2 separate regions of the Homo sapiens genome follow, and region 1 is linked to region 2. The links come from fine-mapping of genetic effects on gene expression. A gene starts in region 2. The other region holds a variant in brackets. All regions are shown on one strand. Distances are from middle to middle.

What was found. PIP is the estimated chance that this variant, and not a neighbour inherited with it, causes the effect.
Region 1: its variant is the best candidate, but not a certain one, in a credible set for the expression of LINC02527 in sun-exposed skin (GTEx, PIP 0.60).

The regions. Positions count from the first base shown.
Region 1 is chr6:111,724,912-111,729,307 of GRCh38, forward strand. The region is part of intron 3 of FYN (FYN proto-oncogene, Src family tyrosine kinase); the gene reads right to left. Among named protein-coding and RNA genes, the nearest start is that of TRAF3IP2, 120 kb to the left of the region's middle. The variant T/G (reference allele first, on the strand shown) is at 2,460.
Region 2 is chr6:111,906,684-111,911,079 of GRCh38, forward strand. It overlaps LINC02527 (long intergenic non-protein coding RNA 2527), which reads right to left and starts at 2,714. Exons shown (of 3, transcript NR_149099.1): 1 at 2,243-2,714. RefSeq lists an enhancer at 1,425-2,111.

The sequences.
Region 1 (4,396 bases), 180 kb before region 2:
AATGCAAGCAACTGAGATGGGGGCAGTTGAAAAAAGAATTTAAAGCTGAACTGCAGATCAACTGCATGGTTTCACACTTTTCTCGGAAAAAAGCAAAAACTGGAAGCTTATCAAGCAAACACACTTTTTCAGTCAGCAGGAATAGCATTAGGAAAAGGATAAGATGTGGCAGAGACACATCTGAAATTATTTGACTTCAGGATAGAAGATTCATGGCAGAGGGCTCTTGATCCTCGCAAAATTAGAAACACCCATAAGAATCTACTTGGGGACTTTTGCTACATTCTCAGTGGAGAGAGTTAATCCATTGAAAGCCTAGGAAAGCCTTCTTTAGTTTTCCCCTGTCATTACTGGGAGCAGAAGGACATTCAGAGACAGTTGAGTACCACATCAGCAGCAATGAGGTTGGGCCACAGAAACTGTCACCCAAATTTCCTAATTTCCCAGCACCTTTCAATCCTTTACAATGGGGCTTTTCTCCTCTGTAGCATACTGCATCAGATGATCCTGACACCCCATGAGAGAGTGCAGGCAGTGCTGCCTTCTGGGGACAGACGGGACAGAAGGGCCAGGGAGGACTGGGGAGGCTGGACAGAAAGCAGGGCTATGCTGGCCACTCTTGGGATCACAAGCATTTCCCAAGGTACTGAAGCAGAGAAAAAGTCACTGCTGGGTTGGCCCTCTGGAGATGTTAATACTTGAGGGATGAAACACTTTCAGCACTGATGCTGGGTTCAGCCAATGGCCCCAGCCCAGCTATGAAAAAAAGCATGCAGGACTCTGCCAATGTGGGAAAGTCCTCTCTTTGCTGCCAACTGGAGGGAGTGAAAATATGTGCCTTGCTAAATGACATTGTGGTAGGGAGAATTCTGAGCTGTCCCCCAGGACTCCTACTCCCGGTGTATGTGCCCTGCAAATCCCTAGGATTTATGAATGATGGGGTAGTCACTCCATCATCGGGTTGTTATTTGGCACAGCCGACTTTGAGAGATCATCCTGGGTGGACCTGACCTAATCAGGTGAACCCGTGAACGGTATGCCAGTTCCTGGAAAAGTAGATTAAAAGTGAGAGAGGCCTTCATTGTGGGGGAGATTCTCCACAGCTGCCTTTAAAGATGAAGGGGCTATGTGGCCAGACACATGGGTGGTCAGAGCTGAGAACAGCTCGGTCAAGAACCTGAATGAACCTGGAAATGGATTCCTCCCTAGTCAAGCCTTCAAACAACAACATAATCAGCTAACATTTGATTTCGGCTTTGCTGAGCAGAGAATCCCCTCCGTGCCTGGATTTGTGACTGACAGAAATGTGAGCTAACAGATGGATGTTGTTTTAAGCTACTAAGTTTGTAGTACTTTGTTAGGCAGCAGCAGAAAACTAATACATGTTTTGGTGGGATGGGCACCATGGGGATGATGGCTCCAATTTCAGCAGTCATGACCAATATCCAATCAGTGTTCCCTGTAGCCTAGGTGCAGGCTGGACTCTGCAAAATGCTGTCCCATTAAAATCTAGTAACAACTCTAAAACACAGGTATTACTATTTCCCCACACTTTACAAGGGAGGAAAAGAGGGGTTGGGGAATTTGTCCACAGCTATGTCAGTCATAGAGATGGGATTTGAAACCAGATAGCCTGATTCCATGGCCAACACACAGAGTCTCTATACTAGAGCTATTTCCTGACCATGGAATCCTGGCCAGTCCATGCAAGGGTGTGGGTGTGAGGGCTGGAGGTGTTGAGGGAAAAATCCTATAGGGAAGAATTGGTTCCACAGAGCTCAATATCTCACACATTATGATATGGTTTGGTTGTGTCCCCAGCCAAATCTCACCTCAAATTGTAATCCCTATAATCTCCATGTGTCAAGGGCAGGACCAGGTGGAGGTAATCGAATTATGGGGGCAGTTCCCTCATGCTGTTCTCGTGATAGTGAGTGAGTTCTCATGAGATCTGATGGTTGGTTTTATAAGCATCTGGCATTTCCACTGCTTGCACTTACTCCGTCCTGCCGCCCTGTGAAGAAGGTGCCTGCTTCTCCTTTGCCTTCTGCCATAATTGTAAGCTTCCTGAGGCCTTCCCAGCAATGCGGAACTGCAAGTCAATTAAACCTCTTTCCTTTATAAATTACCCGGTCTCAGGTATTTCTTCACAGCAGTGTGAGAATGGACTAGTATACATTACTAACGGAGGCACTGATTTCAGGGACTAGGTCTCACCTCCATCCCCAATGCACATTCCATTCCCCCAAGACAGTGGATTCTGTAGAGATGCTGGACCATACTAGGTGCAGTGAGTCACCATCTTCCTTCGTGCGGTTTGGCATATTAATGACTATTTGGGCCGATGACACTGAAGCAGCCCTTAATTTCCTCATCTTTCCTAGTCATGGCAAGGGTATTCATAAGTACCATGAAGGAGTTGGCACTGGTTTCCTTGGTATAAAAATCAGCTTTCCTAT[T/G]GCACTTAAAATATGATTTGCTTTACAGGCAAAACTTTCTGGAACATATTTACTGCATAAACTGAGATACACATATAATGCCTCCACCAAGCACAAAATAACAGCTTTCTACTCTTGGTGAAGCCTGTGAGGGAGAGCCCCTCGCCAAATGCAAGTATTAAAATATTACAGTCTCTGAGGTGAGAAGATAGATGTAAAAGTGGGAATATACACAATGCAGACACTAGCCACATGCAATCATGGGAGAACAGAGCCTACTTAAAAATCAAACCCAAGCTTTGCTTCAGAAATAAGTGGAGTTGAACCCATTCGATCATTTACGCATGACTTTGCAAAGGTTCTCTGGAGGGGGAAGAGGATCAACCTTCTCTCATACCGCACAGCAAGGGAACCAAAGTAATATAAATCACTCTTAAAAATGTCATGTTACTTTAAGAATAAGCCATACTGCTGGCACCTAGAATATTTTTGTGGGTCCCCATCTCTGGCTTTTCTTGTTCAAATGGCCCCCAGGCTAAGAGGCAGCTGCTCACATCCCTGCAACAAACATGTTCTTTCCTTTCTGCATAGCCTTCCATTTCTCGAGCCCGAAGACTCAAAAGCGCTCAATAAAAGAGAAATGGAAGCATCAGACCCCAGTGGTGAGATTTAAGACTGCAGTCAACTGAATGCTGGAACCAGTCCCAAACCTAAATGGCCAAATGAGGCTTTAACACCAAACCATGGAAAGGCTCCAAGAAAAGAGTAAGAACATTTTCTTCTTAAATTCATTTTGCTCTGGATCTCAGGGTTAAGACAAGAGTGAAATGGTGATGAAAACAAGGATGATATGTTTTAACCCCATCTATGCCAAAGGTTTCAGAAAGAATTAGAGCACAGGTTGTAAAGTTTTTTCAGGCTCCACCCCCTGCCCGCAAGCCTTTTTGGACCATAGAAAAGCCCCTTGTAGTTAATATTTTTAAAATTTCATTTAAAGTGAGATATAATTCATATACCATAAAATTCACCCTCTTGAAGCACACAGTCCAATGGTTTTTAGTACATTTACAAAGGAGACCATTTCCATTATCTAATTCCAGAACATTTTCATTGCTCCAGAAAGAAACCCATGCCCATTAAGCAATCGCTACCCACTCCCTTCTCTCCCCAGCCCCTGGCAACCACGAATCTAATTTCTGTCTCTATGGATTTGCCTATTCTTGACATTTCATATCAACAGAGTCACATCATATGTGGTCTTTTGTGATTGGCTTCCTTTGCTTGGTATAATGTTCTCCAGGTTCATTCATGTAACATGTATTAGTACTTCATTCCTTTTTATGGCTAAAAGATATTCTACTGTATGGATATACCAGATGTTGTTTATCTATTCATCAACTGATGGACATTTGGGTTTTTACGTTTTGGCTCTTATGAATAATACTGCAACAAACATTCATGCTCAAGTTTTTCTGTGGAGATATGTTTTCAACTCTCTTAGATTAATATTTCAATATATAAGAAATTTATACAGATAAGAGAAACTCTAAGTTTAGGAAACAGAAACATATATTGGCAACAAAAAAAGGAAAAACAATTTGTGAAACATATGGGAGAATATTGCCTTTGGTAGTAATCAGAGAAATACAATTTAGATTAGTGAGATACTATGTATCACTTCTAAATTCACACATTAAAAAAATAAGTATACTCAATAGTGATGAAGTTTCCTTGAAATGAATATGACTCTCTTACATTGCTGATAGAAGACCAGAAATCAGTGTAAAACCATTTGGTAAACCAATTTGGCAATATAAAAAATTCTTAAAAATGGGCATACTCGGCCAGGTGTGGTGGTTCACACCTGTAATTCCAGCACTTTGGGAGGCTGAAGTGGGTGGATCACTTGAGGCCAGGAGTTCAAGACCAGCCTAGCCAACATAGTGAAACCCCAACTC
Region 2 (4,396 bases):
ATTGGGTGCATATATATTTAGGATAGTTAGCTCTTCTTGTTGAATTGATCCCTTTACCATTATGTAATGGCCTTCTTTGTCTCTTTTGATCTTTGTTGGTTTAAAGTCTGTTTTATCAGAGACTAGGATTGCAACCCCTGCCTTTTTTTGTTTTCCATTTGCTTGGTAGATCTTCCTCCATCCTTTTATTTTGAGCCTATGTGTGTCTCTGCACGTGAGATGGGTTTCCTGAATACAGCACACTGATGGGTCTTGACTCTTTATCCAATTTGCCAGTCTGTGTCTTTTAATTGGAGCATTTAGTCCATTTACATTTAAAGTTAATATGGTTATGTGTGAATTTGATCCTGTCATTATGATGTTAGCTGGTTATTTTGCTCGTTAGTTGATGCAGTTTCTTCCTAGTCTCGATGGTCTTTACATTTTGGCATGATTTTGCAGCGGCTGGTACCGGTTGTTCCTTTCCATGTTTAGCGCTTCCTTCAGGAGCTCTTTTAGGGCAGGCCTGGTGGTGACAAAATCTCTCAGCATTTGCTTGTCTGTAAAGTATTTTATTTCTCCTTCACTTATGAAGCTTAGTTTGGCTGGATATGAAATTCTGGGTTGAAAATTCTTTTCTTTAAGAATGTTGAATATTGGCCCCCACTCTCTTCTGGCTTGTAGGGTTTCTGCCGAGAGATCTGCTGTTAGTCTGATGGGCTTCCCTTTGAGGGTAACCCGACCTTTCTCTCTGGCTGCCCTTAACATTTTTTCCTTCATTTCAACTTTGGTGAATCTGACAATTATGTGTCTTGGAGTTGCTCTTCTTGAGGAGTATCTTTGTGGCATTCTCTGTATTTCCTGAATCTGAACGTTGGCCTGCCTTGCTAGATTGGGGAAGTTCTCCTGGATAATATCCTGCAGAGTGTTTTCCAACTTGGTTCCATTCTCCCTATCACTTTCAGGTACACCAATCAGACGTAGATTTGGTCTTTTCACATAGTCCCATATTTCTTGGAGCCTTTGCTCATTTCTTTTTTTTTTTTTTCTCTAAAATTCCCTTCTTGCTTCATTTCATTCATTTCATCTTCCATCGCTGATATCCTTTCTTCCAGTTGATCGCATCGGCTCCTGAGGCTTCTGCATTCTTCATGTAGTTCTCGAGCCTTGGTTTTCAGCTCCATCAGCTCCTTTAAGCACTTCTCTTTATTGGTTATTCTAGTTATACATTCTTCTAAATTTTTTTCAAAGTTTTCAACTTCTTTGCCTTTGGTTTGAATGTCCTCCCGTAGCTCAGAGTAATTTGATCGTCTGAAGCCTTCTTCTCTCAGCTCGTCAAAGTCATTCTCCATCCAGCTTTGTTCCGTTGCTGGTGAGGAACTGCTTTCCTTTGGAGGAGGAGAAGCGCTCTGCGTTTTAGAGTTTCCCGTTTTTCTGTTCTGTTTTTTCCCCATCTTCATGGTTTTATCTACTTTTGGTCTTTGATGATGGTGATGTACAGATGAGTTTTTCGTGTGGATGTCCTTTCTGTTTGTTAGTTTTCCTTCTAACGGACAGGACCCTCAGCTGCAGGTCTGTTGGAATACCCTGCCGTGTGAGGTGTCAGTGTGCCCCTGCTGGGGGGTGCCTCCCAGTTAGGCTGCTCGGGGGTCAGGGGTCAGGGACCCACTTGAGGAGGCAGTCTGCCCGTTCTCAGATCTCCAGCTGCGTGCTGGGAGAACCACTGCTCTCTTCAAAGCTGTCGGACAGGGACATTTAAGTCTGCAGAGGTTACTGCTGTCCTTTTGTTTGTCTGTGCCCTGCCCCCAGAGGTGGAGCCTACAGAGGCAGGCAGGCCTCCTTGAGCTGTGGTGGGCTCCACCCAGTTCGAGCTTCCCCGCTGCTTTGTTTACCTAAGCAAGCCTGGGCAATGGCGGGTGCCCCTCCCCCAGCCTCGCTGCTGCCTTGCAGTTTGATCTCAGACTGCTGTGCTAGCAATCAGCGAGACTCCGTGGGCGTAGGACCCTCCGAGCCAGGTGCGGGATATAATCTCGTGGTGCGCCGTTTTTTTAAACCGGTCCAAAAAGCGCAATATTCGGGTGGGAGTGACCCAATTTTCCAGGTGAGTCCGTCACCCCTTTCTTTGACTCGGAAAGGGAACTCCCTGACCCCTTGCACTTCCCAAGTGAGGCAATGCCTCGCCCTGCTTCGGCTCGCGCACGGTGCGCGCACCCACTGACCTGCGCCCACTGTCTGGCACTCCCTAGTGAGATGAACCCAGTACCTCAGATGGAAATGCAGAAATCACCTGTCTTCTGCGTCGCTTACGCTGGGAGCTGTAGACCAGAGCTGTTCCTATTCGGCCATCTTGGCTCCTCCACTCCCCTGCTCTCTAAAATATCTTTATAGTTAAATGCAATGTAATATAGAATACAGCAGACACAACAGAAAATAGCATTGTTTAAACAGCATTTTAAATCCTGCTTTGTCCAATCATATTTCTATAATGTCTGTCTTTTAACTTGGCTTCACCATGGTCTCTAAACTCATCCAGGAGGTGGCCCCTGCTTGCACCTCTGCCCTTCTGCCCTCCTGCACCTCTGCCCTTCTGCCCTCCTGCCTTTCAGTTCCTGCAGGCCCCAACTCTCCACTAGCTGGAGGGTCTTGGCTTGCTCCCTCTTCCTGGCATACCCTTCTCTGCTCTTTGTGTGTCTACCATCTTTTGCATCTCAGCTCAAATGTCCCCGTCTCCGGGAGGGCCTCCCTGATGATGTTATCTTAAATAGCACCACCTCCAAATTACTCTTTCTGACGTCACCTTGCCTATATCCTTTATTGCATAAGTTGGTAATTATCATGCTTATTTACTTGCTTTTTCAGATTTTAGCTTTTATATGTTTGTTTGTGTTGTGTCTGTCTCCATGTTAGAAAACAGTGCCACCTCTTCTCCAGGTAACTAGAGAGTCCCAGAGTTCAAGTGTAAAGACTGAGGGCATCATGACCTTCTGCAGGGGGCCTGTAAATGGATCAGAGAAGGGGTATTAGGTTGGTGCAAAAGTAATTGTGGTTTTGGCTGTTACTTTTAATGGCAAAAAACTACAGTTATTTTTGCACCAACCTAATACAAAGGAGGAGAAGTTGTTGGGCTCAATAGTCTCTCTTCTGTTCACTGAGTGGCTCAGGCCTGAGATAAGCAGTATCTAAGGACCCAATAATTAGGGATTCACAATGTTTTTTCAGCCTTCCCCCAATCCATAAATCCGTAACATGTATCCCAATGTGTGATTTTCAGACATTCAAATGAAAATGCTTTTTTAGGAATGCATCCCATGGAAAACTAGGAGTCCACCTATATGGTCTGAAAAATGCCTGCCAGTAGGCCCTTAGAATGGCCTGGGCACAGTATCTTGCTTCCTTTACTTGTCTTTTGTCTTGAGTACACACTGTGCTGCCCCTGCATTCCAAGTCCTGCCATTTCTGTGGGCAGCAGAGAGAACCTAGGAACCTGCTTCTTCTAATAGGAAACATACCTCCCAGACCTTGGCCCCAGCAGACAATGTACTCCCAGTTGAGCAGAAATGTGCATCATTATGTCTTCTAACAAATGTTGCTTTTTAAACTTTTCTCTTTCATTTGAGCACCCCTAAGGAGGGAGCAGGGGGAAGAAAAGCAACAGAAAGGAAGATCATTCATAATAAAAATGATAAGATACACATTTGGGGTTCAGAAGATAAGAGGAACTGGTGTAAATTTACAACAGCAGTTTCTAATTGTAGTCAGATTGCAAAATAGGAATGGATATATGACTCAAAGGGATTAAAAACATAAATAGTAAATAAACATCAATGATGTTCTGCTTAAAAAACATTTAAATATATTCAGACTCAAGTGATTTAGTTCATATCACCATATCCCCAGTAAATTAGAAACCATTAAATGTTGTAGAAATTTATATTTGGCAGAGCTGAGGACAAAATAGCATCATTAAATGATGTAGATACCTTGATGATTAGAGAATTTCCTGGAGAGAATATAGTTCACATAGGAGCCACCAGATTGGCCATGGTCCTTGCTCTGATAGTCGCATGTTTGACAATTTATTCTAAAGAAGTTCTTAGAAGAAAGAAATGCTTATTTGCACTAGGACGTTTATAGCTATTCTATTTGTGTGACAAAACAACAACAAACACAAAACCAACTGGAAGTCATGAAAATGTCCTATAATTGGTAACATAGGTATAATTGCTACATTGATTCAATATTTTGGCATGAAAAATGGTAGGTATATTGACGATATGGACATATGAGAGAGCAGAGAGCATATTTTAAATAACACGAAGTGAAAAAATATAACAGCATTGCACAGCGATTATAATGCTGTGCATATATCTTGAAGAACATAATCATGTAAAAAGTGATTATCAGAAGAGGTTACAAA